7 linked regions of the Homo sapiens genome follow. The protein of the gene in region 1 interacts with the protein of each later gene in a pairwise test. Each region holds a gene or a part of one and is shown in the gene's direction. Other genes may lie near its edges. The genes, in order: SH2D2A, ZHX3, NAA16, SPTB, MAP3K2, GPR75-ASB3 and PLEKHB1.

Evidence for each region.
Region 2: the proteins of SH2D2A (region 1) and ZHX3 interact in a two-hybrid assay, tested with the Homo sapiens proteins (one large-scale study listed by BioGRID and IntAct).
Region 3: the proteins of SH2D2A (region 1) and NAA16 interact in a two-hybrid assay, tested with the Homo sapiens proteins (one large-scale study listed by BioGRID and IntAct).
Region 4: the proteins of SH2D2A (region 1) and SPTB interact in a two-hybrid assay, tested with the Homo sapiens proteins (one large-scale study listed by BioGRID and IntAct).
Region 5: the proteins of SH2D2A (region 1) and MAP3K2 interact in a two-hybrid assay, tested with the Homo sapiens proteins (one study listed by BioGRID).
Region 6: the proteins of SH2D2A (region 1) and GPR75-ASB3 interact in binary tests that used the Homo sapiens proteins (3 or more experiments, as listed by UniProt).
Region 7: the proteins of SH2D2A (region 1) and PLEKHB1 interact in binary tests that used the Homo sapiens proteins (3 or more experiments, as listed by UniProt).

What each region holds. Positions count from the first base shown.
Region 1 is NC_000001.11:156,806,849-156,810,348, reverse strand, and holds part of SH2D2A (SH2 domain-containing protein 2A), read left to right. Parts: intron 1-541; coding exon 542-688; intron 689-858; coding exon 859-1,146; coding exon of another isoform or gene 1,147-1,212; exon of another isoform or gene 1,213-3,003; coding exon 3,004-3,171; 3' UTR 3,172-3,174; exon of another isoform or gene 3,175-3,500. UniProt on the Homo sapiens protein: Could be a T-cell-specific adapter protein involved in the control of T-cell activation. May play a role in the CD4-p56-LCK-dependent signal transduction pathway. Could also play an important role in normal and pathological angiogenesis.
Region 2 is NC_000020.11:41,202,524-41,206,561, reverse strand, and holds part of ZHX3 (zinc fingers and homeoboxes protein 3), read left to right. Parts: intron 1-1,495; 5' UTR 1,496-1,645; coding exon 1,646-4,038. UniProt on the Homo sapiens protein: Acts as a transcriptional repressor. Involved in the early stages of mesenchymal stem cell (MSC) osteogenic differentiation. Is a regulator of podocyte gene expression during primary glomerula disease. Binds to promoter DNA.
Region 3 is NC_000013.11:41,359,521-41,363,558, forward strand, and holds part of NAA16 (N-alpha-acetyltransferase 16, NatA auxiliary subunit), read left to right. Parts: intron 1-2,510; coding exon 2,511-2,639; intron 2,640-3,210; coding exon of another isoform or gene 3,211-3,264; exon of another isoform or gene 3,265-3,355; intron 3,356-4,038. UniProt on the Homo sapiens protein: Auxillary subunit of the N-terminal acetyltransferase A (NatA) complex which displays alpha (N-terminal) acetyltransferase activity.
Region 4 is NC_000014.9:64,869,737-64,873,774, reverse strand, and holds part of SPTB (spectrin beta chain, erythrocytic), read left to right. Parts: intron 1-1,096; exon of another isoform or gene 1,097-1,453; intron 1,454-4,038.
Region 5 is NC_000002.12:127,384,759-127,389,549, reverse strand, and holds the start of MAP3K2 (mitogen-activated protein kinase kinase kinase 2), read left to right. Parts: upstream 1-1,574; 5' UTR 1,575-2,098; exon of another isoform or gene 2,099-2,112; intron 2,113-2,310; exon of another isoform or gene 2,311-4,045; intron 4,046-4,791. UniProt on the Homo sapiens protein: Component of a protein kinase signal transduction cascade. Regulates the JNK and ERK5 pathways by phosphorylating and activating MAP2K5 and MAP2K7. Plays a role in caveolae kiss-and-run dynamics.
Region 6 is NC_000002.12:53,709,735-53,713,772, reverse strand, and holds part of GPR75-ASB3 (GPR75-ASB3 protein), read left to right. Parts: intron 1-4,038. UniProt on the Homo sapiens protein: Probable substrate-recognition component of a SCF-like ECS (Elongin-Cullin-SOCS-box protein) E3 ubiquitin-protein ligase complex which mediates the ubiquitination and subsequent proteasomal degradation of target proteins. Recognizes TNFRSF1B.
Region 7 is NC_000011.10:73,649,569-73,653,606, forward strand, and holds part of PLEKHB1 (pleckstrin homology domain-containing family B member 1), read left to right. Parts: intron 1-984; coding exon 985-1,137; intron 1,138-2,219; coding exon 2,220-2,322; intron 2,323-3,406; coding exon 3,407-3,446; intron 3,447-4,038.

The sequences.
Region 1 (3,500 bases):
AGTTTAATGCAGCCAAGTGTGGTGGCTTACGCCTGTAATCCTAAGACGCAAGAAGGCTGAGGTGGGAGGATCACTTGAACCCAAGAGTTCAAGACCAAGCCTGGGCAACATAGTGAGACCTCATCTCTACAAGAAATGAAAACACAATTAGCCGGTGTGGTGGCACATGCCTGTAGTCCCAGCTACTTGGGAGGCTGAGGCAAGAGGATAGCTTGAGCCCAGGAGGTCAAGGCTGCAGTGAGCTGAGACTGCACCACCACACTTCAGCCTGGGCAACAGAGTGAGACTCTATCTTAAAAAAGAAAAACTTTAATGCTAGATATGGCCTGTGACCAGAGCTTACCACTGCCTCCATCCAACCCTGGGTCTCCCTGCCGTCACCACCCCCTCTTCCTCATCCAGGGAACCCAGCCCAGGCCAAATTTCTGTGCTCCTCCCCCTTCCCCCATCCTCCACTTAGACTGGATTATTTTGTCCTCCTGATCACCTCCCCCACCCCAACGCTCCACCGAGTGCCTCAGACCTCCTTCTTTCCCAGCAGACTCCTGAGCCTGCAGGACTTTCCCTGAGGACCGAAGAATCAAACTTTGGAAGCAAAAGCCAGGACCCAAACCCCCAGTACAGCCCAATCATCAAACAGGGGCAAGCCCCAGTCCCGATGCAGAAAGAGGGGGCCGGGGAGAAGGAGGTATTGGGCTGCAGGGGCTGAGGGAGTGGGAGGACAGGCCTGCGAGGGGGTGCAGGCAGCGGGGAGGAGGAGGGGCCTAGCGGGGGCAGAGGCTCAGGCTGGGAGTTAGGCTGGGGCTTTAACCCTGCCTCCCTCACCCCACTCCTCCCTGGCCTCACCTTCTCTCCCAGCCCTCCCAGCTGCTCAGGCCCAAGCCTCCCATCCCCGCCAAACCTCAGCTGCCCCCAGAAGTCTACACAATCCCTGTTCCACGACACCGCCCGGCCCCACGCCCCAAGCCCTCCAATCCTATCTACAATGAGCCTGATGAACCCATAGCTTTCTATGCCATGGGCCGGGGCAGCCCTGGGGAAGCCCCCAGCAACATCTATGTGGAAGTGGAAGATGAGGGCCTACCCGCCACCCTTGGGCACCCTGTCCTACGGAAGAGCTGGTCCAGGCCTGTCCCAGGAGGCCAGGTAAATGGGTATGCAGGGAAAGGTAGGTGCAAGAAGGTCTCCCTGCAGGTAGATGGGGGAAGGTGAAGAAGGTGTTCAGAGTGGATGCCTGGGGCAGGGTAAGGGGCAGAGGTGTGAGGTGATGTGGGAAGAACAGAATGATCCAGGCACCAGCCTCCCTTCTCCAGGCCCAGAGGCTGCCCCCTCTTCTCCCCAGAGTCGCTCAGACCTCATCTTTGTCAAGCCCCCATGCCCTCCTATCTCACACAGAAAACAGAGGCCCCCAGGCAGGGTGCCCCTCCACCTCCCACATCGAGGCTTTTTTGATCTGCGTCCATCTTGTCCTGCAGGCCCTCTTCAGACGCACCTGGGGCTGACCCCACCCCGTGCCTCTCTGGCTCTCTCCCTTGGCCTTCACGGCCCTGCTGTCCTGGAGAAAAAGAGCACTTGGGTTCCCTTATGTCATCTCAGTGAGCTCAGGGGAGGGGGACCCTGCTCTCCCAGCCTGCTTCTGTGTACTCCCTGTCTCCCTCTTCCTTCTCCCCAGCCCTAAGTCTTCTTGCCTACCCTTCAAGTCAGTACCTCATGCCATGGGTTAGCCCCAGCAGCCATCCCACCCTCTCCCTCGGCCTCTGCGGCCCTCCCAAAGCCCTTCCCCAGCCTCCCTCCTCAGACCCTTCCCCATCCTCCCTCCTTGCTGGTGCCCCAGGCTCCCTGCTCAGCCTGAGCCTGCTCGCGCTCACCCACACCCCTGCCAACGTCTGCTGTCCTAGAGCTAACGTCACCTGTCCATATCTCCGTCCAAACTTTTTTCCAAGCTTCTGGTCAGTTCCCCCCAGCATCCCTGAGCCCCTCAAACTCAACACGGCCAACAGCGCTCTCACCCTTGCCCTCCAAACAGCTCGGTCCCATGTTCACTGTCCTGATTGCTAACTCTCCAGCTACCCAGCTAGCCAAGCCAGAATCCCAGGGCTCCCTCAGCACAGCTCCCTCTTTACTCCCCCAGTAAGCCACTCATTCCTGCTGGATCTCTTCCTAAGTATATTTTTCCTTCCCCCAGCTCCAGCCCCCATCATTGGGGTCTGGCTTTGTCACCCAGGCTGGAGTGCAGTGGCACAATCATAGCTCACTGCAAACTTGAACTCCTGGGTGCAAGTGATCCTCCCACCTCAGCTGAGATTACAGGCTCGAGCCACCTCACCTGGCTCCCAAGAGCTTCTTAACTGGTTTCCTAACCACCATTCTTGCCACTTCTGATCCACTCTGCACCAAAGAGCCAGAATGGTCTTGCTGAAGCAGCTGCCTGGCCCATGAAGCACTCTAGACTTGGGTTGGGTGGGGGGTCTCACCTCCTTAGCCTTACCACCAGCCACTCCCATTCTCCTAGAATGATTCACATTTCTCTAAACTCACCAAGTGGTTTCAAGCCTCCTGGGGTTTGCACCCGCCAGTATCTCTGCCTATAGCAACTTCCTGCAACCTCATCCTCCCGCTGCCTGGCAACTTTCTAATCATCCTTCAAGACCAGCTTTCCCTTCTCAGAGGCCACCCCCTGTGCCTTACACACACCTGCCATGCCACTGATCACCTGAGACATCCATCTCCTCCCATCTCCTTCTCTCTGTCCCTTCCCTAGTTTAGAGTGTGAGTTCCCTGAAGGGAGGGGCTGGGACTTACCCATCTGTTTCCAAAGCACCCAGCCCAGTGCCTGGCACAGAGCAGGTGCTCAGGAGATGTTTGTTGAATTAATGAATGAGAGGAGTTTAGATACCCTCTCTGGAAGCCAAAGTCTGTTCAGATCAGATGTCTTGAGACTGCAAGTACACCTAGGAGGCAGAGGGTAGAGGGTGTGACCTAGAACTGTCCTTCTCTCTGCAGAATACAGGTGGCTCCCAGCTGCATTCTGAGAACTCTGTGATTGGGCAAGGCCCTCCCCTGCCCCACCAGCCCCCACCCGCCTGGAGACACACCCTCCCCCACAATCTTTCTAGACAGGTGCTTCAGGACAGAGGACAGGCATGGCTTCCCCTTGGGCCTCCTCAGTAGGCGGTAAGTCTGAGCTTGGTGAGGATAACTTGGAGCATCAGGTCCAGAGACCTTCACACACACCTGGCACACTTCTCAAGAAATGTGGATGGAATAAACCATAGGTGTTCAAAGCTGGAAAGGAGCTCAGCCATCATCTATTGCAAGGATGGCAAAGAGGTGTCATCTTGCATGCCAACTCCAATCCATTGGTCGTGGCTGCCTAGAGTGCTGCATTGGAAAGGATGTTAAGGTCATATCTGAACTCAGCAGAAAAAAAGCACATGATTGATTAGTGATGTCTGCCACGGGTAAGAGCGGGAGGATGAGCAGCATTACATTTGTCCTTA
Region 2 (4,038 bases), on another chromosome or scaffold:
TCAATCACTGATACTCTTTCTTCCACTTGATCAAATCGGCTACTGAAGCTTGTGCATGCGTCATGTAGTTCTCATGCCATGGTTTTCAGCTCTATCAGGTCATTTAAGGTCTTCTCTACACTGTTCATTCTAGTTAGCTATTCATCTAATCTTTTTTCAAGGTTTTTAGCTTCTTTGTGATGGCTTCGAGCATCCTCCTTTAGCTCAGAGAAGTTTGTTATTACTGATCGTCTGAAGCCCTCTTCTCTCAACTCATCAAAGCCATTCTCCATCCAGCTTTATTCCATTGCAGGTGAGGAGCTGCGTTCCTTTGGAGGAGAAGAGGCACTCTGATTTTTAGAATTTTCAGCTTTTCTGCTCTGGTTTCTCCCCATCTTTGTGGTTTTATCTACCTTTGGTCTTTGATGATGGTGGCGTCCAGATGGGGTTTTGGTGTGGATGTCCTTTCTGTTTGTTAGTTTTCCTTCTAACAGTCAGGACCCTCAGATGCAGGTCTGTTGGAGTTTTCTGGAGGTCCACTCCAGACCCTGTTTGCCTGGGTATCACCAATGGAGGCTGCAGAACAGCAAATACTGCAGAACGGCAGATGTTGCTGTCTGATCCTCCCTCTGGAAGCTTCATCTCAGAGGGGCACCCAGCTGTATGAGGTGTCAGTCGGCCCCTACTGGGAGGTGCCTCCCAGTTAGGCTACTCAGGGGTCAGGGACCCACTTGGGGAGGCAGTCCAACTGTTCTCAGATCTCAAGGTGAGACCACCCTTTGAGTGGTCGTACACAGAAAATGTATAGCTTGCTGGGCCACAAACTGGTTCTGTGGATTCCCTGACCCTCTGACCTTTGGTTTCATCTCAGTAACAGTGGTCCGGGATACATAACAGCCAGTAACTGTAAGGTGATCGCTTTTCTGTGGCCTGGAATAAGTGCGGCAGGCAAGGAAAGGCTACAGAGGCCTGGCTCTTACAGCAGCCGGTCTTCCTAGCCACCCCCGCCCACCCCACCCCTTCCGTTCACACACTGCAGCTAACTTGGTCCCTGGGCCTGGCTTGGGACAGACAGAGGCGTCATCTTGTTCTCATATGCGGGAAGGCTATGAAAAGAAAACCGCGTGTTGGTCCAAAATGTAAACAAGAATTACACTAGGATCTTTTGTTCTCACTCTGACATGGTCAGAATTAATTTGGAGGTCCAAAAAGAGGGCGTTTTGTTTTTTAATCTGAATTACTTAATGCAGGGATATGTAGGGGGTGGTGGGGAAGAAACAAAAATACGTTGCTTAAGTCTATCAGTTGGTATTGGACCATCCCCAGGTCATTCTTCAGGGTCCAGTTTTTGTCATTAGGGGGTTCCTAACTTAGACTTCATATCCAAGTTGCTGATTAAACTTACTGTGAAAAGACCTAGATGGTAGAAGGCAAGCAGTGGAATGTGTCTGGGTATCCGAGAAATATACAGAAAGCACTTAAGAGAACTTAATCATTTTTTTCTCCCTTTCCTTAGATTGAATAGGGAAAACCTGCTTTCTGCAAACAACTGAAAAAGCTGCATTTAGAAACTGTTTCTTTGGCCCTCATCGAGAAGCTGGAACTTGTATTGTTAGGCCCCTTATGGGACAAGCTCTCAACTGCTGATCACCCAGTGATTGTCACCATGGCCAGCAAGAGGAAATCCACCACACCATGCATGATCCCAGTGAAGACTGTGGTGTTGCAAGATGCCAGCATGGAGGCCCAGCCCGCTGAGACCTTGCCTGAAGGACCCCAGCAGGATCTGCCCCCAGAAGCATCTGCTGCCAGCAGTGAGGCAGCACAGAACCCCAGCAGTACTGATGGCTCTACACTGGCCAATGGGCATCGGAGCACTTTAGATGGCTATTTATATTCCTGTAAATACTGCGATTTCAGATCCCATGACATGACCCAATTTGTGGGACATATGAACTCAGAGCACACAGACTTTAATAAAGACCCAACCTTTGTATGCAGTGGGTGCAGTTTTCTGGCAAAAACCCCTGAGGGGCTTTCCTTGCACAATGCCACATGTCACTCCGGGGAAGCCAGCTTTGTGTGGAACGTGGCCAAGCCAGACAATCATGTGGTTGTGGAGCAGAGCATCCCTGAGAGCACCAGCACTCCTGACCTAGCGGGTGAGCCCAGTGCTGAAGGGGCTGATGGACAGGCAGAAATCATCATTACCAAAACTCCAATCATGAAGATAATGAAAGGCAAAGCTGAAGCCAAAAAAATTCATACACTCAAGGAGAATGTCCCTAGCCAGCCTGTGGGTGAGGCCTTACCAAAGCTGTCGACTGGAGAAATGGAGGTGAGAGAGGGGGACCATTCCTTCATCAATGGGGCAGTTCCAGTCAGCCAGGCATCTGCCAGCTCTGCAAAAAACCCCCATGCCGCCAACGGGCCCCTGATAGGAACAGTGCCAGTTTTGCCAGCTGGCATAGCACAGTTCCTCTCCCTCCAGCAGCAGCCCCCAGTGCATGCCCAACACCATGTCCACCAGCCACTGCCCACGGCCAAGGCCCTTCCCAAAGTGATGATCCCCCTGAGCAGCATTCCAACGTACAATGCAGCCATGGACTCTAACAGCTTCCTGAAGAACTCCTTCCACAAGTTCCCCTACCCCACCAAAGCCGAGCTCTGCTATTTGACTGTGGTGACCAAGTATCCAGAAGAACAGCTCAAGATCTGGTTCACAGCCCAAAGGCTGAAGCAGGGGATCAGCTGGTCCCCTGAGGAGATTGAGGATGCCCGGAAAAAGATGTTCAATACAGTCATCCAGTCTGTGCCTCAGCCCACAATTACGGTTCTAAATACCCCACTCGTCGCCAGTGCTGGCAATGTCCAGCATCTCATCCAGGCCGCTCTTCCAGGTCACGTTGTGGGGCAGCCAGAGGGTACAGGAGGGGGACTTCTGGTCACTCAGCCATTGATGGCCAATGGGTTGCAAGCAACAAGTTCCCCTCTCCCCCTCACGGTGACATCCGTCCCCAAGCAGCCAGGTGTGGCACCCATTAACACTGTGTGTTCAAATACAACGTCAGCTGTGAAGGTGGTCAATGCGGCCCAGTCGCTCCTCACGGCCTGCCCCAGCATAACCTCCCAAGCCTTCCTTGATGCTAGCATCTACAAAAATAAGAAATCTCATGAACAGCTGTCAGCTCTGAAAGGGAGCTTCTGTCGGAACCAGTTCCCAGGGCAGAGCGAAGTTGAACATCTCACAAAAGTGACGGGCCTCAGTACCAGAGAGGTGCGGAAATGGTTCAGTGATCGTAGATACCACTGCCGGAACTTGAAGGGCTCCAGAGCGATGATACCTGGAGATCACAGTTCCATCATCATTGACTCTGTGCCAGAGGTGTCCTTCTCCCCATCGTCCAAGGTCCCTGAGGTAACCTGCATTCCGACAACAGCCACACTAGCAACCCACCCTTCTGCCAAACGACAATCTTGGCACCAGACTCCTGACTTCACACCAACCAAATACAAGGAGAGAGCCCCTGAGCAGCTCAGAGCCCTGGAGAGCAGTTTTGCACAAAACCCTCTTCCTCTTGATGAGGAACTGGACCGCCTGAGAAGTGAAACCAAAATGACCCGACGAGAAATTGATAGCTGGTTTTCAGAGAGACGGAAAAAAGTGAATGCTGAGGAGACCAAGAAGGCTGAGGAGAATGCCTCTCAGGAGGAAGAGGAGGCTGCTGAGGATGAGGGTGGAGAAGAGGATTTGGCCAGTGAGCTAAGGGTCTCTGGTGAAAATGGCTCTCTGGAAATGCCCAGCAGCCATATCTTGGCAGAGCGCAAAGTCAGCCCCATTAAAATCAACCTGAAGAACCTGAGGGTCACTGAAGCCAATGGCAGGAACGAGATTCCAGGGCTGGGTGCCTGTGACCCTGAGGATGATGAGTCAAACAAACTGGCAGAGCAGCTCCCAGGCAAAGTGAGCTGCAAAAAGACTGCCCAGCAGCGGCACTTGCTGCGGCAGCTCTTTGTCCAGACACAGTGGCCAAGCAACCAGGACTATGACTCCATCAT
Region 3 (4,038 bases), on another chromosome or scaffold:
GGGTAGAAAGCTCAGAAACAGATTTCACACATATTTGGAAAATGGGATATACCCAGAGATACTGTAAAAATCAGAGATGAAAATATATTGCTGGGACAATTAGTTACTCCTGTTGGGGAAAAAGCCTCCAATATCCCTCTCTGTCACTGTACACGAATCAGTTCCAGGTGGATTAAAGATCAGATATGGAAAGCAAACCTTTCACACTTATACAAGAAAATATAAAGGAGCTTAGGATAAACTAATTATAATATAATCTAATATAATAGAAAATTTCACTGTACACGAATCAGTTCCAAGTGGATTAAAGATCAAATATGGAAAGCAAACCTTACACTTATAGAAGAAAATATATAGGAGTTTATCTTCAGGATAAAGAAGCATTCTTTATGCTTGAGGTAGGAAGCATTTCTTGACACCAAAAGCATAAAGCATAAAAGAAAAACTGAGGTGGGCATGGTGGCATGTGCCTATAGTCCCAGCTACCACATAGTAAATAGCACTAGGTTCAAAGTCTTCAATGCCCTTTCCACTATATCACAGGTTTGAAATTAAGAAGAGAGTACAAGGAATAAACATAAAACCAATTATGTTTTCAGAGAAAAGTACCACATGGAAGGCCAAGGTAGCGATAGGAAGTAAAATGCAATTAAATATGAAGTATACAGGTTGAGCATCCCAAATCTAAAATTCAAATTCCAAAATGCTCCAAAACTTGAAACTTTTTGAGCACTGGTATGATGGTCAAAGGAAATGCTCATTGGAGCATTTTGGATTTTGGATTTTTGGGTTTGGGATCGCTCAACCACTAAGTATAATGCAAATATTCCAAAATTGAGAAGGTTTGCAACATTTCTGGTTCCAGACAATTCTGATAAGCGATACTAAATCTATGCAAAACTTAAAGAAGTTCAGTGATTTTTAAGAAACAGAAAGCCCAGTGACACTGGGATGCGTCTTTAAAGGCACAGGAGAATGAGAAAGAAGGTGAGAGGAGTTGGTTATTTAAGGAGAATAGTCACCAAAATCTGTGGCTCAGCTTGCTCATCATAACTGCCTCTGATCATCCACTTTTGACAAGTTGCCATGCTGTATGGCAAGCTTGTTCACTTTATGCACACTAGTTTGTTGGCCAGGCAAATCCATAATATGTGGTGAACAACATAATGAGGCAGGGGAAGAAAACTGCAAATGACCCTGAATAATCAGGATATATCTGCTTACTAATAAATGAGTGAAGGGCGCATATTTCCTTCTCGCAGATTTTTCAGTTTAGAACTTTTGTACAAAGTTGCTGATACATGTTGGATAGTTCTAGTTGATAAACTTTTTGAAATGAAAAGTAATATAGATTTCCTCTTATAAAAATATGTGACCATTAACAAAATGGAAAATATAACACAACCATAATGAAGACAGAAAATACATCAATAATTCTGTTCACCCAGAGATAACTAGTTTTTAGACGTTTAATGTGTTCTGAAAATTGAACTGATACACAAAATGTGAGGAAAAACTGTAGACTGAAATCATTTATATAAGTGTATCTTTGCATCCTTTCCTGGGGTCATATAAAATATATTTTAAATGTCTCTTCTAAACTGTGACAAAACTTGAGTATCCTTGCACTTAAAATTCGTTAATTTATGTCTCACACTCCCCTCAGAATTTTTATTGAGCCTGAATTAACAAATTCAGTTATTTGGTTTTGTCAGCCCACTGCAAAGGAGAAATATTAAAGTAGAAGAGTTGTCATGAAACAGGTGATGCTGATAGAAGCAGACACATGGGCACAAAGAAAGTGACAATGGAGGAGGGACACTGGGAAACCAAAAAACAGGCCTGCAGCTATTACTAACAGATTTGATAAATGCTGAATATACGTAACAGTGACCCCGAGTCAGCAAGGAAGGCTGAAATAGCTTTTGCTTGAAAGGCAGAAGATAGGCAGTACTTCATATGACTGCTTTCTTAAATAGTTGAAATAAAAACTTTGGTGTTTAAAAACTAAGATTTAGTAATTTGGAGTCTTTTTTATGAAGAGTGTTGACTACCCCAGCAGAGCTGGGTAAATAAGACGTTATGTATATGTGGGTTTTCCATCTGATAACTGAGATGGCTCCTAAGTGACAGTTAGGTAGCAGACAGTGTGGATGTACTAGACAAAGGGATGATTCACGTTCCGGGTGGGATAGAGTGGGATGGTGCAAGATTTTATCACAGTATTCAGAATGGCATGCAGTTGAAAACGTATGAATTGTTTATTTCTGCAATTTTCCCTTTAATATCTTTAGACCATGGTCGACTGTGGGTAACTGAAACCATGGAAGGTGAAACCTTGGATAAGGAGAGACTATTGTAGTATAAAACCATGTTTGGAAACATACTGATATATTTGCTAATTGCTGCTATTGTCATAATAGTACTGTAGCCCTAGTTGTAAAGAGGAAATGATTTTTAGGATCTCTTTCATTGTTTGCTCTCTATAGTTTTGAATGCTTCCATTTCAGGAAGGAACATCTGCCATGGAAAATCTAAATGAAATGCAGTGTATGTGGTTTCAGACAGAATGCATTTCAGCTTATCAGCGTCTGGGGAGATACGGGGATGCCTTGAAAAAATGTCATGAAGTAGAAAGGGTAAGTTGTTAGAATTTCGACTTCAGTTTTCACTGTAAGGTGATAAAAAGCAGGTAGATTTCTACACAGGATCATCTGCCTCTTCTAACTTCTCTGGGAGCTTCATTGTGAAAAAAATTCTTGATCTTTAACCTTTACATTCAGAAGTTGTAAACAATGGATTGCTTTACTGATCCTCAAGTGATTATGCTTTTGACATGTCTATATATTTTTGTCTGAAGGAAAAAGATTGTTAGTAAACAATTATTGCTATTAACATAAATTCAAAATTTATGTTCCCTAATTAGGCCATTATTTTGATATTCATCACCACCCTAAGAGGACACACAGCTGATGGCAACCTCTTTCCCCTTTAAAACATCAGGATCTGGTCCGCAGTCAGCCTCTCTCCAGTTTGTCTTCCCAGGATATTTGCTCTCACATTCAGTATTCTGTATAACAATCTATGGCCAGTTTGCAGGCTTATTTTATTGCTTGCTTTTAGGATTATTTGTGTGATGTGCCTTAGTGAGGGGACTTTTCTTTTCCTTTGTGTGAATTTTTGTTTTCCTGTTCTTTGTCATCTCTGAAGCACTCTCCTTCCACATGGACCACAGGAGGAAAAGAGCCGCAAATGCACCCCTGAGGCAGTCCTCAGCAGCCCTCAGTTGTGGGGGCAATCGGCACCACTGTTCCCATCCTGACGCAGTATAGAACCACAGGCATCGTAGTCAGGTGAGCCTGATGTCTGCACCGTGGCAGTCACTTTGGCCTTTTTCCCACGTGAAATTTCTGAGATTACCCACAAGGAAGGCTAAATTTTAGGGGGTGGCTTTTGATGGGGACTGGAACTAGAATTATACCCAAGCATTTTTAGAAATAACCTAATTTTTGCTCTGTTTTTGTTTTTTGTTTGTTTGTTTTTCATGCCCTTTTAAGCCTGGGCTTGATGGCTGTATCTCTGGGGAAAATCCTCCTCATCTTCTCCTTGAAAAATATAAAGCCCTTGGGATGATAGGTGAAATACCCAAGCATTCTAGTTTAAATCAGGCTCTTGTTTCCTTCATAAAACCACAGATCACTAGCTTGTTACACTCCCTAGAGGACCATTATTTTAAGAGCATTCTGCTTGTTATTAAGGAAAGATACATTTTTATTAACTAGGACATTCTCAGTGAGAGGTAAATTGTTTCCCTTATGAAGAGGCTGCTAGGCACTTACGAATTAGTAATTTCAGCAAGACCATAACTAGAAACTTACCAAATTTTCTGTTTAAATGAAATTTGAATATCCTAAGGATCATTATAGTTCTGAACTTCTTGAACTTAAATTCCATTTCTTCTAACATTGATGACTATATTGCTTTGTTTTTTAAAATTTTGAGAATTTTTAGAATATGATAAGTGGATCTTCCATTACT
Region 4 (4,038 bases), on another chromosome or scaffold:
GTTGCCTAGTTCTGAGGCTGGGGCTGTTTCCAGGTCTTCTCAGTGGAGTAATTGAATATTCTGGGCCTTCTGGTTGAGACCGCGGTTGCTTTTTTTCTTCAGCAGAATATTCCACATAAGTTCATTGGTTCTGGAGAGAAGACACTTGTTAATGGTATTACCCTTTACCATAGCCACAGAACCTCAAGAATGGCCCTCCAGAGTATGCACAGATGCTGTTCCAAAGCATGAATTAATGGATTCTCAGTAGCATGCCATAGATAAATGAAGGGTTCATCTGCCCGTTAATTGATGTTTTGGGTTTTTCATTCCTTTACCCCAAATTTACTGGGCATTATTGTGCTTATGCTTCATTTTGGACTTCAGCAGCCTCTTTTTGTCCAGTGATCTTGAGGGCCTTGATTTGTATGTCAGTCTTCAACAAATATTTACTGAGTTCTCATTTAATTTGCCAGACATGCTGTAGGCCCAGGGAATGTAACAGTGAATGTGGCAAAAATGTCTGAAGTCGTAGAGTGCACATTGTAGTTGGGGGAGAGAGGAACTAAATGACAAGCAACAGACAAAAATATATATTGTAATTTCAAGTGCTAAAAAGAAAAATAAAGCAATATGAAGGGAAAGAAGGGTGGTTCTACTATTTCAGGTAGGGTGGTTGGGAAAACACTATCTGATGGGGCTTCATTTGGGCTGAGACTCAAATGAAGTGGGGAGAGAGGCATGGGATGTTTGGGAGAAGAGATTCAGGTTGAGTGGTAGTCTGTTCTCACACTCCTAATAAAGACATACCAGAGACTGAGTAATTTATAAAGGAAAGAGGTTTAATTGAATCACAGTTCAGCATGGCTGGGGATGACTCACAATCATGGCAGAAGGCAAAGGAGGAGCAAAGGCATGTCATACATGGTGGCAGGCGCATGTTCAGGGGAACTGCCCTTTATAAAACCATCAAATCTCATGAGACTTCTTCACTATCACGAGAACAGCACAGGAAAACCCACCCCCGTGATTCAGTTACCTCCCACCGGGTCCCTCCCACGACATGCAGGGATTATGGGAGCCGCAATTCAAGATGAGATTTGGGTGGGGACACAGACAAACCATACCAAATGGGAAGCCCCCAACGTGGGGCCACTGCTGTGTCCAAGCAATAGCAAAGAGGCCAGTGTGGCCTGAGTGCAGGGTGTCATGGGGAGAGCTAACCACAGTGCTGGAGAGAAAAGCGGGTCTTGATGGTGCAGGCTTTGTGACCTTTGAGTTTTAGTCCAAGTGTCATAGGAAGCCACTGGAAGTTGTGGGCAGGGGAGTGACTTGTTGGGATTTGTGTCTCAAGCAGATCTTTCTGGCGGCCCTAAGGAGGATTGATTGTGGGGCACAAGAGTGGAGGCAAGGAGTCCCATGAAAGCTACTGCGGTGGTTCAGGACGAGAGGATGGATCAGGATGATAGTCCTGGTGAGATGCAGTTGGGTTCTGAGTATAGAGATTATGAGATTTGGATATAGAGGATGAGAGAAAAAGAATAAGATGATTCCATTGTTTTTGGCCTGAACAACTGGATGAACAAAAAGGTCGTTTACTGAGATGGTGATGTATTTTATCAAATGTACCATGGGCTATTTTTTTTTAATTTCTGTTTTTGTCGAGGTGTTGACTTGGAATAGTCTTGGCAGACTTTTCATTTAAATACACCAAAAAGGAGATGTTTTTATTTTGGGATGATTCATGACATCTGTTTGAAGCGAAGCTTTAGATGTGCTGTGTACTTTGTACTGTTACTTTTAGATCAGTCCCACAACGTTTATACTATGTGATGGAGATTAAGATATGGGAGAAACAAGATTGAAATATATTTCACTTTATTTTTAGAAATGTTTTGAATTGGCTGGTTAAAGCCCAAATATTTTTTGATGCTTCCTGGTTGTCATATTTAAAAAACTTTTTAAATTATAAAATAAACTCATGTACGTGGTTAAAACATATATCCATATTATACAAGGGTATACAATGAAGAGTAAAAGTCTTCTCCTAACTTCAGCCCTATTTCTAAGAAGGTACCACTGTCAACAGTTTCTGTGTATGCTTTGAGAAGAATTCCATTCATGTGCAAGCATTTGGCCTGATACATTTTAAAGTCATAGCTTTAAGCTAGCAGCACCACGTGTTAGGTTTCAGATTTAGTAGACTTTGTAGTCACCTTGGTAGCCCTCAAGTTAAGCGACCTGGAGTCCACTTTCTATCAACTAAGGATCTCCCTCTCCAAACCATCCCACACTGAACCACTGTGTTCATCATATAACACCCCTTCTCAAAAGCCACCAGTGGTTCTTCTCTGGGTAGAGGTAGAAATCCAAACTCATAAAGTTGGCTTTTAAGGAGCCATTCTATTCTGGCACCAGTCTCTTTTTTTCTACTCTTTTACCACTTTCCATCACAAACCCTCTACTTAAACTAAGTTTGTCCACTTCTGCTTACTGAGTCCTGACCATTTCTCCCAGATTTGGAGTGTTTTCCATCAGAACTTGGGTTCGAGGCTGTGTCTTCGTCCTGGAACACTCCACTCCACAGTAATCTCTCCCTTCTTCAAACTTGCTAAATTAGGGCTAGATACATGCACCCTATTTGAACATAATCACAAATTCTTTTATTAACTTTCTTTGTATATGTGTATTATTTGCTCAAATATATGTGACATAAATTTTACCATTTTAACCATTTTTAAGTGTACATACAGTTCAGTGGCATAAGCACATTCACATTGCTGTGCAGCCATCACCATCATCCCTCCCCATCATCATGAAAAAGATGGACGTTTTTCATCTTCCAAAACACAAGCACTGTGTCCACTAAACACTAACTCTCCATTCCCTCTCCCTCCATCTGTCTATGGACACTTGGGTTGCTTCTACTCTTGCCTATTGTGAATAATGCTGCTGTGAACATGGGTGGGCAGATATCTCCTTGAGACCTTGCTTTCACTTCTTTTGGACATATACCTAGATGTGAAATTGCTGGATCACATAGTAATTCTATTTATAATCTTTTAAGGAACCCGTCCATGCAATTTTAATATTTCCCCTTGGTATTTAACATCTCCAAAGGGAAGGGCAAAAATTTATTATCCTCATTTTGGGGGCCAAACTGAACTTGAGAAGTGTTTGTTTCAGAACACTGTCTTTGGGTGATAGTTCGTCATCAAAGTTCTTGAATTTGTTCATTTATTAGTGTGCCTGTTTTTAGATTGTAGACTTTTAGAGGACAGGCAGGTGATGTTTAATTTGCTTTGTAGAGCATGTAGCCCAAGCTCAGGTGGGGAAGGGTGTAAATATTATGCGATGTTTTATTTCAGCTAAAAAATCTCCTTGAGCTGGATGACAAGAGTCTGGGTTGCTTCCAGCTCCTTTCCTCTTGCTGTTTGCCCTTGGGTGAAGAACTTCCTCTTTCTCTGACTTTTTTTTTTTCAGGGCTTTTTGTGTGTGTGATTGTGATGGTGCCTTAACATTTATTATTATCCTTAAAATTTTCCTTGTGGATTCCTCTGTAAAACTTACATGTTGCCTTCTCTTTGTAACCTTGCCTGACAGCCCCTCTTCCTTACCAGGTCCTGGGGTAGCGCTGATTGCTTCCTCCTTTGTATTTTTACAGTACCCTTTTCACTCCTTTCTTACAGGTGGATCATCTTGTTTTGTAATTGTCAACTTGCCTTCTACACTGTTAGTTCAAGCTTCTTGCAATGGGGAACTGAGTCTCATGCTTAAAAACAAAACAAAACAAAACCTCTGCACCTAGAGCCATGTTTTATACATGGAGGGGAGTGGCTCAGAAATATTTGTTGATTAAAAAATTAGGCTGGAAACATCAGCTCATGCCTATAATCCCAGCACTTTAGGAGGCTGAGGTGGGCAGATCGCTTGAGCCCAGGAGTTTGAGACCAGCCTGGACAACATAGCAAGACCTGTCTCTACAAAAATTAAAAAGAAAAAAAAAAAAGCAGGGCATCGTGGCACGTGCCTGTAGTTCCAGCTACTCAGGAGGCTAAG
Region 5 (4,791 bases), on another chromosome or scaffold:
AGAAAGAATAGCTACTATAACTATACCCACGGGATGTTTCTGAGGAACCCAGAGGTGAATGAAGTCCCCGGGGTGGTAAGTGAGGGAAGGGAGTGGAGAAATGAGCAGCACTATGAGGGGAAAAAATTTATCTCTAGATTACTTAGTAAACAAACACGTTTTTATTGAATGCCTGCTATGTGGTGACCCAGTAACTGTGGAGAACAATATAGATATTTAAGATTTAAATACTATCCTCCGGCGTTCTGAGACCCTCCTTTCTGTGGCATACAGGTCTTAGAATGTTAGATTCAAGAAGGTCTTAGATTTATGCATAAGTCCCCCATTTTTTAAACAAATAGAAGCAAACTGATTTTCCACTGACCTCTGTGTTTCTGAGGTGCACATCCTTGTTCCTGTGACTTTGACACCTCTGTTAATGGGTCTGTAATAAAAATTCCTGGAAGAAACCCAGAGATATTTTGACATTACACAACAGTTTCTCCCTCAGTCTCTGCCCCACAAGTGCCAGCTCCCTTGACCCTCAGAGCCCAAGTTGGGTAGCTCCTTACCTCTGGTTCGGGTGAGTCCCATTCCCATCTCTCTCATTTCAACTGCTCCAGTGGAAATGTGGTCTGGAATATGCATGAAAGGGGTGGATCCAGAATGTACGAAGAAACCAAGAAGAAGCTGAACAGGGAAGAATGGTACAGGAAGTTGTAAGGGGTATTTAAGGAAAGGAGAAGAGATGGGGCGGAAAGGTGCTTTCTGGATCAAAGTAGGGTGAAAACGTCGGGATGCAGGTTAGTCACACCACGGAGGGCCTCACCACTAGTCTGATTAATTTGCATTTTATCCTGTGGGAGATGAGGAGCGAAAGAAAGGGTTTTAGACTCTAGCTTTGGGGGTGGGGTGTCAACTCATGTCTCTGGGCTTAAGTTTCCACATCTGTTAAGCTGGAGAAGTAATACTTGCTGGGCTAACCAATGTACACAACCAGTCATAACCAAGTATCGATGGTGATAAGAACTAAACAGAAAACACAAATAACACTTAGCCAGTCTCCAAGGGGGTGGTTTAAGGTTAGGTGGCAAGCCTGAAGTAATTTCTAAAGTCCCTCAGGAAAAAAATTCTGAAACTTGAGCCACAAATTAAGAGGCAGACGGCTTTTCTCCTTGCAAATGACCTGCCACACAGTCCGTCACTGCCTCTGCTAGCTCTGCTACCCTTGGGCCCTGTCCACAGCCCACGTGGGAGACCTTTTCACGGGATCTACTCGGATGTCTGGGATCTGGCCACTACCGCAGGCTCGAGACAACCCAGGTGCGTATGCGCCGCGCACACGGAACAGCACAGGCTGCCCCGGGGCAGGGGCGGGGGCGGGGCCGAGGCCGGGGCGGAGCCAGGACTGGGAATCCCCGCGCCGTCCGGCCGGTGGGGGCGGTGGCCTGTGTGTGGGCGTGGCGGGCCTCTGCGCAGGCGCCGACCCACTCCCCTGGGCCGGGCGCGCGCCCGCGGCGGGTTCCGCTACCGCCGGGCGGAGGGGTGCGCGCGCACGAGCGAGCGGCCGTGACGTGCGCCGCGCTACGCCCGACGTCACGGGTCCGTGTGTAGTGGCTGCCGGGCTGCCTGCCCTCAGCGGCGGCGCCTGACGAGGGTGCCGCGGCCGCTGGGCGCAGCGTTCGGGGGTTGCACGGCCCGCGGCGGCGACGAAAACAACGACCAGGACGCTCGGCGCCCCTGTCCGCAGAGTCGCCACTCCCGCCTCTTCTCCGGTCTCTAGCGACGCGGGCCCGCGGCTTCCTCCTTTCCTGCCCAGTTCCCGCGGGCCTCGGGGTTGCAGCGGCTAGAAGTGCCGAGGAGCGCCAGGAGGACCCGGCCGGCTGCGAGGATTCACGCGCCCGCCACCCCGCCCGGCCCGGGCTTCATGTGAAAGAGGGACGGGCCTGGCCCCAAGGCCCGCGCCCGACTCCTCGCGCGCCCCTCCGGTCCCCGGGGGCCCTGCGGCAGCCCCCGACCTGGGGCCGCGGTGACAGGCCGCGCTGGGGCGGAGGGGCGGGCTCGGCGGGGGCGGCCCCTCCTTGGGCCTGCGGCTCTCTACGTCCCTGCGGAGCAGCCGGTACGTGCGTGTGTGCGTGCGCGCGCGCTTGTGTGTGTGTGTGTGTGTGTGTGCGCGCGTGTGTGTCGGGGGCCGCGGGCTGGGCGCCGGGAGGGGGGCTGGCGGCGGCCTAAGCGCCGCTCCAGGGGCGGAGATTTCGCTGGGTGATTGCCTAGCTGCGGGAGGGCGGACCTTGGGCCCCCTGCATCCAGTCCTAAAGCCCAGGTCAGCGCGAAGTAGGCTGCTGGGCTGTGTTAGCTGTCAGACACGTACCCTGCAGAGATTTTAGAAGAAAGGTTGCATCTGGTCTTGGGATGAAGCAGAAATGGTACATGCAGTAAGCGAAAAAGTGCTTGTCTTTGCACTGTCACAGTGTGGTAATCTTTTGATGTAAGGTTGTTTCCCCCTTTTCTCTTTACGGAATATTTAGGTAGCACTTAGGGTGCTCTTAGTCTGCGCCCGGCAGTTGTCATGCATTATCTCTCTTCATCTTCCCAGCTCAATGAGGTGGGTAAATTGCCCCATTTTGCAGGTGAAAACTTGAGGCTCAGAGAGATTAAGGCATTTGTCCAAGGTCATGAAGGTAGTAATCCAGGAAGGCTTGGTTCGAATATGCAGATGTCTTTTTGTAAGACTGTATTTCTCGTCTTGCAAAAAATAAATACGTTTAGAAAATGAGACTAACTGGGCAGTTTCTTTAATGGGATAAATTCTAAACACATAGACAGATACAGTTTAGTTTTCCCTAACGTAAGCTCTTCGATATCTTTTGCCAAATCATTTTCTTGGCTTTAAAAAAAATTTAAAAGATGGCTTCAGATACCTTTACTTTTTATGTACTAGTACTGGACAGAAAAAAATTATTCTCTCACAAAAAATAAATACATTTGGTAAAACTGCATAGATCTTGAAAAGTCACAAATTTACTTTTGTAGTTTGACCTTGATGCCCAAAGGGAACTCACAGTTGGGTTATTTGCTTGAGATTTCCTTGTTGCAAAATTTGTTGCTGGATTATGTGGCAATTTAGTGATTTGTTCGTTGTCTTATGCAATCTTTTTTAGTTCGATGTCAAATTTTAATGCGTAGAATATCGTAGGAAGTTTGATGGTGTGATTCTTTTTCATTTGTATGGAGTGCTACTAGTCAGTGTTTATAAGTTAACTGAAAATTCTCATTTTAGCATGAGTTTTGTATTTTTTAAAACTATGGTGAGAGGAAAAAATAAGGAGCCAGAGCTCTGTACTGAAAAAAAGTCGATACATTTCCTTTGAGTAATTGAAGCTCTATGCATAATTGCAAATGTTTAACAAATCTATTGATGCCCAGTTATATTACTCTGTAATTTTCCTAGTATATTATCAAGTTGAAGAAAATTTGTGGTCTTGCAGTCTCTGTGGAGAAAAGGTGAAATTACAAAGTTAACATGTGGATGGTTTACAGATTGATTTGTTGTTTGGTTAAAATATAAACATGTTGAATCTTATTGAATTATGTTGTATATGATATCATTATAGAATGGTTATCCATGTGCCTCTTTTGAGAAACTAGCTGTTAAAGGCTTATCTTAAATAATTGGATTGCATTAGAGACTGAGTCTTATAAGCAATGTTTTAGGGGGAGCTTTTGTTTCTAGTTTACTTTATTGGTACCAAAGGGTTAAACTAACAGGTGCTGTATTAAAATAAAGTCATGTTTGATACTCTGCATTTCCTACAGCGTTGGTTTCAGGTTGATTTTCTCTTTCCCTATAGAATTGGAGCTATTTCCCCCCACCTCCCACTTTTTATTATCAAACAATTTCAAGCATACAGAAAATTTGGTAATAGTAAACCACTTGTATCTTGACCCTCTAGATTAAACATTTGTTGTTATCTTGCCATATTTGCTTTATCTATAGGTACATGTACAGGCATACCTTAGAGAGATTGTGGCTTTGGTTCCAGACCACTGCAATAAAGGAAAAGAAGTGAGTCACATAAACTTTTTAGTTTCACGGTGCATATAGTTATGTTTACAATATACTGTAGTCTATTGTGTGCAATGGCATTATGTCTAAAAAAAGTATATACCTTAATTAAAAAATTATTTATTGCTAAAAATTTCTAAAGAAATTTGAGCCTTTAGGGAATTGTAATCTTTTTGCTGGTGGAGGGTCTTGCCTCCATGTTGATGGCTGCTGACTAGTAAGGATGGTTGATAAGGGGTGGTTGTTGAAGTTTGGGATGGCTGAGGCAATTTCTTAAAGTAAGACATTAGTGAAGTTTGCCGCATCGATGGACTCTTCCTTTCAGGAAAGATTTCACTCTGGCATGTGATACTGTTTGATAACATTTTACTCACCATAGAACATTTTTCAAAATTGGAGTCAGTCCTTTCAAACCCTTCATCAACTAATTGCTTATCACCTATCATCTAAGTTGCTTATCGTTGCTTTATCAACTAAGTTTTTGTAATCTAAGTCCTTTGTTGCTACTTCAATAATATTCACATCATCTTCACTAGGAGTAGATTCCATCTCAAGAAGCCACTTTCTGTCCAGGCGTAATGGGGTCACGCTTATAATCCCAGCAGTTTGGGAGGCTGAGGCAGGAGGATTGCTTGCGCCAAGGAATTCAAGAACAGCGTGGGCAACATGGCAAAATCCCATTAAAAAAATATAGAGGTTAGCCGGTTGTGGTGATTTGGGAAGCTGAAGCAGGGAGAGTGCTTGAG
Region 6 (4,038 bases), on another chromosome or scaffold:
CCCAGCTAATGTTTTTATTTTTAGTAGAGATGGGGTTTCTCCATGTTGCCCAGGCTGGTCTTGAACTCCTGGGCTCAAGCAGTTCCCTTGCCTCGGCCTCCCAAAATGCTGGGATGTCAGGCATGAGCCACGATGCCTGGCTTTATATTATTTTTGGATGTGAGTCTAAATAATTAAGTTTTTAAACGCCCCCAAATTAATTATTTTTCTAATCTGTCATAATTCTGTGAAATAGACTAAGTGAAGAATTACTGCTGCCTTGTTAGTGTCTGGCCAGTAACTTTGTCTATAACACTCTTACAGTTTTAAAACACTAAGAATAAAGCTGTGTGTAAGAACAGCCATATTGAGTAATATCTGGTCATCCAATAATGGAATAAGTTATGAAGATAGATGCTATTGTGTTTAATGACACAGAAGAGGTTGCAGGCATACCTCAAATTGTATTGGCCTTCTTGAATTCACTATTATGAATCTCTATTTAATTTGAGTAGTTATCAAGAAATTATTTACTAAGCTTTTCAGCCTTTACTATCTCTTAACATTTGCCATGTAAAATTAGTAGTTCACTATAATTTGTTTCAAGTTTAAGCTTACACGTTTTAGTAGAGATAGGGTTTCACCAGCCTGGTCTCGAACTCCTGGCCTCAAGTGATCTGTCTGCCTCCAGCCTCCAAAAGTGATGGGATTATAGGTGTGAGCCACCCCATCCGGCCTCTTAAACTTATACATTTTAGTTTGAATATTTGGGTTTTGGTTAATCTGAGTATCTGGGGCCCACTTTATGTATAACTTTCATGATTTCATAGGATTTTCTTGTGTACCCCGTTAAGTTTTGTCTTTTTAAACAGAAGAGCCCTAATTACTTTAGTTGACCTTCAGTGAGGTTGCACTGATAACTTTTAGTTGCCTTTCTCTATCCCAAATCTTAAGTCCGTTACAGAACTGAACATTTCTTATTAGACCAGAATATAATGATTTTGGATTGCGCGCGCGCGCGCGCCTGTGTGTGTGTGTGTGTGTGTGTTCAATATGATGATGGTCTTTTTTGGCCTTCATCTTATCTTTTGGATGAACAATGTTTTTGGTCCTTCTGGTCACAGCAGCTAAGCTCACGCCTCATCACCTTATAAGTGTAGTTTGAATTAAGCCATATAATGTAGTACCCCTGTTAACTCTGAAACACCTTAAAATTAATGATATTCCTTGGGAGCTGGGCAGTATGTTTCATGCCTTCTGTAGATTCGGATAAATGAAATTAGGTGGGAAAGATCTTAAATAGGTTTCTGGATTTTCCAAGATTAGTTGAAATTTTAGGGGGCAGACCCTTTTTTCTCCTTTGATTTCTACAAAATCAGTCAGTAACACTAATTGACCATTTTGTTATGTAGAGAGCACTAAATAGATCCTGTTAAACTTACTGAGGAAGCTGAAACATACACACGATCCTTTAGGAATTTAAAACCTAATGGGAAAAACAGTATTTAGTGGCATTTACTTCACTATCTTCTGCTGTCTTTGGCAAAGAAGCGTTTTTAATGTATTTTTTTTTTTTTGTATTTTTTTATAGAGACTCATGGAAGGGAAGGTTCCTATTTTTTTCTGCTGTGTCTGGGATAACTGCAAATAGGAGCTATTATCTCATTCTTGAATAGTGATATAAATGATTTTTTTTCTTTTCCTTTCACAAGTACTCCAAAGTTGTATTTTTAAGGAACTCCACAGTTTGGTTTGCTTTTTATGTCTCAGTTACTCTGTAGAATTTTTTTCTGTGTAAACTTCAGTGATGCTAAGAAGTTCTTAACATGCAGTGGAGTAATTCCACTACAGCCTCTCTCTTTCTCTCTAATGACTACAAAAAACTGTGGTCAAAATTCAAAAAGAAACTACCTGAGGACTCTCAAAGGAACAAAAGCAGATAGATTATGAAAGAGAGTGGTAACTTGGTGAAGTGACCCACATGAAAACGAATTTTCCCATTTCTTTTTCCTTTTTTTTTTTGAGACTGTCTCGCTGTGTTGCCCAGACTGGAGTACAGTGGCGCGATCTGGGCTTACTGCAACCTCCATCTCCCGAGTTCAAGTGATTCTCTTGTCTCAGCCACCCAAGTAGCTGGGATTGTAGGCATGTGCCACCATGCTCAGCTACTTTTTGTATTTTAAAAGAGATGGGATTTCACCATGTTGGCCAGGGTGGTCTCAAACTTCTGACCTCAAGTGATCTGCCTGCCTCGGACTCCCAAAGTGCTGGCATGAGTCACCGCGCCTGGCCTTCTTTTTCTTCTGCTGTGTTGCCCTGAGGGCCAACCCTGATCTGGAGCTGAGTAGCACCAGTGGCACCAGCAGCTAATATCAGTCAGTAACATTAATTGACCAGTTGTTTAATATAGAGAGCACTAAATAGATCCTGTTAAACTTACTGAGGAAGCTGAAACATAGACACAATAGAAAGCCTGTTTTTCTGGTCAGAGGAATCAGGTAAATGGAACCCTGTGGGCCAGAGAATGGTAGGGAATCTTGGAGAAGAGAGAGCTTGGAGAAGCGGATACCCTAATTGTGCATATGAATTTGCATATTCCTGACTTACCCCAAGCTTTAAATGCACAAGATAGACCCAAATTGTTTTTTATTTTGTTTTGTTTTTGAGACAGGATCTCATTCTGTTGCCCACACAGAGTGCAGTGATATGATCATGACTCACTGCAGCCTCGACTTCCCTGGGCTCAGGCAATTATCCTGCCTCAGCCTCTTGAGTAGCTGGGACTACGGTTGTGCGCCACCATGCCTGGAATTTTTTTTTTTTGTATTTTTTGTAGAGACAGGGTTTGCCGTGTTGCCTAGGCTGGTCTTGAACTCCGAGCTCAGGTGATCTCCCTGCCTTGGCCTCTCAAAGTGCTGGGATTACAGGCGTGAGCCACAGCACCCAGCCAACCCAAAATGTTGAAAGTAAGATTTGAACTATCATCAGAGTCTCAGGCTAGACCCTGAGTGGCACATTCATGGGTCCAAGCTTAAAGCAGGAAAGTCAAGGCTTTTGAGAACTGAGCTGACGTTGGAACCACTGTATAAGGTAAAACAGAAATTGCAGTTTGAACCTAACTAGGTTATATGCTTGCTGAAATAAACAAACCAAAAAGCTAGTGTTCTTCAAAGGATTATAACAAGACCCAGGACTCAGAATTTATACAGCATAACATTCACAATGTCCAGGAGACAACCTAAAATTATTTGACATATGAAGAACTGATAAAACATTACTAAATCTCATGGGAAAAAGCAATTAATAGATGCCAGTCCTGAGATGGTCCAGATATTAGAAATATCAGATAATTGAAAGCAGCTCTTATAATGGTGCTTCATGAGGCTAACACACTGGAAAAAATGAAAAGGTAGAAATTCTCAGCTGAGTAGTAGAAACTATAAAAAAGACGGAAAAATACAATAATCTGCAATGAAAAATTTACTACATGGACTCCATAGCCAAATGAAAGATATAGGAAAGAGTAAATTAACTTGAAAGTAAACCATTAGAAATTATTAACAAAGGGGAAGACATGCTGTCTGGCAGCTGGAGCGTGCAGACTGGCGTGGCACAGCCATGCAGCTTCTGGAGTTTCTGTTGGTTAGAGATTCAGGAGTAGCTTGGTGGGCAGTTCAGGCTTGGAGGTTTCTCTTATAGTTGCATTAAATATCAGATGAAGCTACAGTCATTAGCAAGCTTGACAGGAGCCAGGGGATCAACTTCCACAGAGGCTCACTGACATGGATCACTCATATGGCTGGGTGTTGGCAGGAAACCTCGGTTTCTCTCTATAAAAGCCTCCCCACAGGACGGCTGCAGTATCCTCATGGCATGGTAGCTGATTCCCTCAGAGGAAGAGGTCTAAGAGAGAACAAGACGGAAGTCACAGTGACCTGGTTCATTGAAATTATGGCTGTCACCTCCGCAGATCACATACACAAGCCCTGATTCAATATGGAAAGACTGTACAAAAGCACAAATAGGAGGAGGAAAGGATGATTGGGGGCCATCTTGGAG
Region 7 (4,038 bases), on another chromosome or scaffold:
TGAAAAATGCCTTTGTGCTTTGGAATCCACAAAGCCCTAAGAAGCTCTCTTATGTCTTTGCCCTTCCCTGTTAAGATTTCCAGTTGCAAAATGTCAGAAGCTCGGTCTCGGGCTTCTAGACCCACCTCTGACCAGAGTCATGACCTGAGCAAGAGCTATCCTGGGGACCCCTGGGACAAGCAGCCCCATGCCCCATACCCCTGCCCATTCTCAGTTCATTTAGTTCAGCAAACACTGAGCCAGGTCTCCCTGGGTGCCAGGACCTGCGTGGGGAGCCATAGCCCCCAGAGTGGTACAGGAGGCAGATGCTACACAAATAACCATCACACAAGTCAGAGATGAGAGATAAGAGGCCGGGCACAGTGGCTCATGCCTGTAATCCCAACACTTTAGGAGGCTGAGTTGGGAGGATTGCTTGAGCCCAGGAGTTTGATACCAGCCTAGACAACATGGTGAGACCCACTGTCTCCAAGAATACCTACCTGGCTAATTAAAAATTAGCCAGGTGCAGTGGTGCGTGCCTGATGTTCCAGCTATTTGGGAGGCTGAGATGGGAGGATCACTTGAGCCCAGGAGGTTAAGGCTGCAGTGAGCCATGCCTGTGCCCCTGCACTCCAGCCTGAGTGACAGAGCAAGACCCTGTCTCAAAGACAGAGAGAGAGAAGATGCAGGCTTAAGGTAGGGAGAGGTCTTTGCCCTTGAAGAGACCTGGGGCTTGGCCTTAGAAGCTTCCAAGTAATGGGCCCAGTCACTCATTTCCCTGTTCAGCACGTGTATCGAGCTTCTGCTATGCATCAGACCCAATGGGAGGCAGGAGGTGAACAAGACAGAAAGAGGTCCTGCCCTCATTTCAGGGGGTAGACAAGAAAAAGGTGGTTGTAACACTAGGGACTGAGGCTGAGGGGACTTGGGAGTCTGTCTGGGGCTTCTATTCCCAGCAGGCTCTGGGATCAGCCTGCCTAGTGCATCTGGAATATCGTACAGGCTCCATCCTCCGCCGCTGGAAGCGGAACTGGTTTGCCCTGTGGCTGGACGGGACCCTGGGATACTACCACGATGAGACAGCGCAGGACGAGGAGGACCGTGTGCTCATCCACTTCAATGTCCGTGACATAAAGATCGGCCCAGAGTGCCATGGTGAGCAGAAGCCCCTTCCTCTGTGGCACCGTGACTGTGGGCAGAGCCTCCCGCTGTCTCCGAGAACACTTGCTGTTGGAAGTCTTTTTGCAGCTTTCAGAGGCATTTCACAGACATTGCTTCTGAGCCTCTGTCAACTCCAATTCAGTTTGGTGTGAGTTAAGAAATAGGTCCTTGGCTGTGTGTGGTGGCGCATGCCTGTAATTTCAGCACTTTGGGTGGCTGAAGCGGGCGGATCACTTGAGGTCAGGAGTTCTAGATCAGCCCGGCCAACATAGCGAGACCCTGTCTCTTAAAAAAAAAAAAATTGGTGAGATGCGGTCACATATGGCTACTGGGGAGGCCGAGGCAGGAGAATTGCTTGAGCCCAGGAATTCAAGGCTGCAGTAAGCTATGATCCCAGTACTTTGAGAGGCATGTAGATTACTTGAGTCTAGAGTTCAAGACCAGCCTGGGCAACATGGCAAAACCCCGTCTCTACCAAAACAAAAACAAACAAAAATTAGCCGGGCATGGTAGTGTGTACCTGTAGTCCCAGCTACTTAAGAGGCTCAGGTGGGAGGATTGCTTGAGCCTGGGAGGCAGAGGTTGCAGTGAGTGTTCATGGCACTGCACTACAGCCTGGGGGACAGAGCTAGACCCTGTCTCAAAAAAAAAAAAAAAAAGAAAAAGAAAAATCAGTCCTTTAGTGCCTTTCTCCTCTGTGCTGTCTCAGAGGTGAGCCAGGCACAGTTCCTGCCCTCCAGGCGCTCGGTACTGGATGAAGACGAAATGAAATTAGGAGGCCCAGAGAAGCGAAGTGGCCCAGAGTCACAGCAAATCTCCACATTCCTCCACCAAGGCCCAGGCCACAGTTCTAACAGGGTAACTGGGAGGTGTGCTGAGGGAAGCCTCAGCATGGAAAGGTTGGAAAGGTTGGAAACGTAGAGTGGAATCCCTCAGAGAGTATATGGGATCAGAGGAGGTTGGCAGTGGCCAGTAAACAGAGCCCAGAGAAGTCAATTCCTATTCCTGTCCCTGCTTTACTGGGGGGACCTGGGGCTTGTGCCTGTGGAAACCCATATATGTGTGTCTGCTTCCAGATGTGCAGCCCCCAGAGGGCCGGAGCCGAGATGGCCTGCTGACTGTGAACCTACGGGAAGGCGGCCGCCTGCACCTCTGTGCGGAGACCAAGGATGATGCCCTGTGAGTCACTCCCAGGAGAGGATGGGGTGGAATCTCGGGGAAAGTTACCATGTGCCCCCTTCTCATTGGGCCTTCTGGTTCTCTGACCGTAGGAAGAGGGCACTAAGGCCAGTCAGCAAGGGAGTCTTATTGGAGGCGGGTGGAGTGGATTTGAAGGGCTTGTGGTGACTGGCATGGCACACAGTGAACTCCTCATGTGGTCTACAGTGAACTCAGGATTGCTGAGGGGGAGGTGTGCACACCTGCCTCAGGTATCTGGTTCCTGGTCTTTAGCGGCCTCTGAGGTGAGCCCTCACCTGAGGGTGATGCAAAGCAGCAGAGCAGCCTAGTGGCACCCTTGCTCCCTTCTTAGAAGATGCCCTGGTGGGGGACTCTGATCTGAGGGGTAGCCCTGGACCTGCCTACAAAGGCAGTCAGCTGCGTCCCAGGCAGGGGCACCCCAATGTCAGATGCATATCCACGTGGCCAGCCTGGGTGTGTCCTTCTCAGGCACCATCTGCTGGCTCACATTCCGTCCCTTCCTACCCTCTGGCTAAGGGGTACATGGCCTTTGCGCTGGAGGAGAGTGAAAGAGATGGGTGTGTGGGAGTGGGGGAAGCTGAGCTCCAGGCAGACAGCACAGAGCCGCCTTGTCCAACCCAGCCAGGTGCCATGGCAACCAACAAAGGCCCCATTGTCCCGTGTCTGCTGGGCCTTCCTGAGGCTCTGGGGTCAGAGCTTTGGGGAAGTGTTTTGTTTGTAGATTTGGGATGTGGAGGGGGACTGGGCTACAACACCCACCCAAGAGTGTCAGAATCTGACATCCCCTGAGAGACCACCCAAGCCCAACCGTCCACTGTATAGATGAGGAAACTGGAACTTCTAGAGGGGACGAGAAGAATGAATTAGCCTAACTTAGTGCTCCATCCATGTGACTGGGGCAGGGGAGGGGTCACTTTTGTCTTCCTGAGGGAGACAAGAGATCTCTCCTTTCATGAGAGACTTGGGCTTGAGGCTGGGTTGGAGAGGAAAGTCTAAAATGTGGGGGCCCAATTCACCCACCCCCAAACTCCCTCCTCATGGTCTGGTGGGATTTGCTTTGCAGAGCATGGAAGACAGCACTGCTGGAGGCAAACTCCACCCCGGTGAGTCTCCCGTTCTCTCCCCCTTTCCCCACCACCTCCATGTGCCATGGAATCATGAGTGACTCAGACTCGGTCTCCACCTGCCAGAAGTTCTCAGTCTTATGTGGATAGGTTTCTGCAAACTCTGATGCCTGAGTCCCAAGTGTTCGGGGAAAGGATAAGGGAGAGCCAACTGGTGCTCAGAGGAGAGAGAGAAGCCTCCATGGAGATTTGCTGGAGGGAGTGGCACATGAGCTGGGGAGAAGGAACTGTCTTTTATCGAGCAACTATTATGTGCCAGGTGTGGTGCAGGTATCATTCCAGCTGCTCCTCACAACAGTCCTGTGAAGTTGGGGTTATTGTTCTCTCTCTGCAGATGATAAGACTGAAGCTCATTCATCCGCACAACAAATATTTACTGAGCTGCTACTATGGGCCAGGTGGTGTGCCAAGTGCCAGGGATCAGAGGTGAACCAAGGAGATATGGGCTCTGCCCACCTGGACTCAGCCTAATGAGAAGCCAGACATGGAACAACTAATTAATTATTCCATTTCAATAGTAATAACAGCTCTGACAGAGATTTGCAGTGTCTGGCCCTTTCATCCAGGTGGT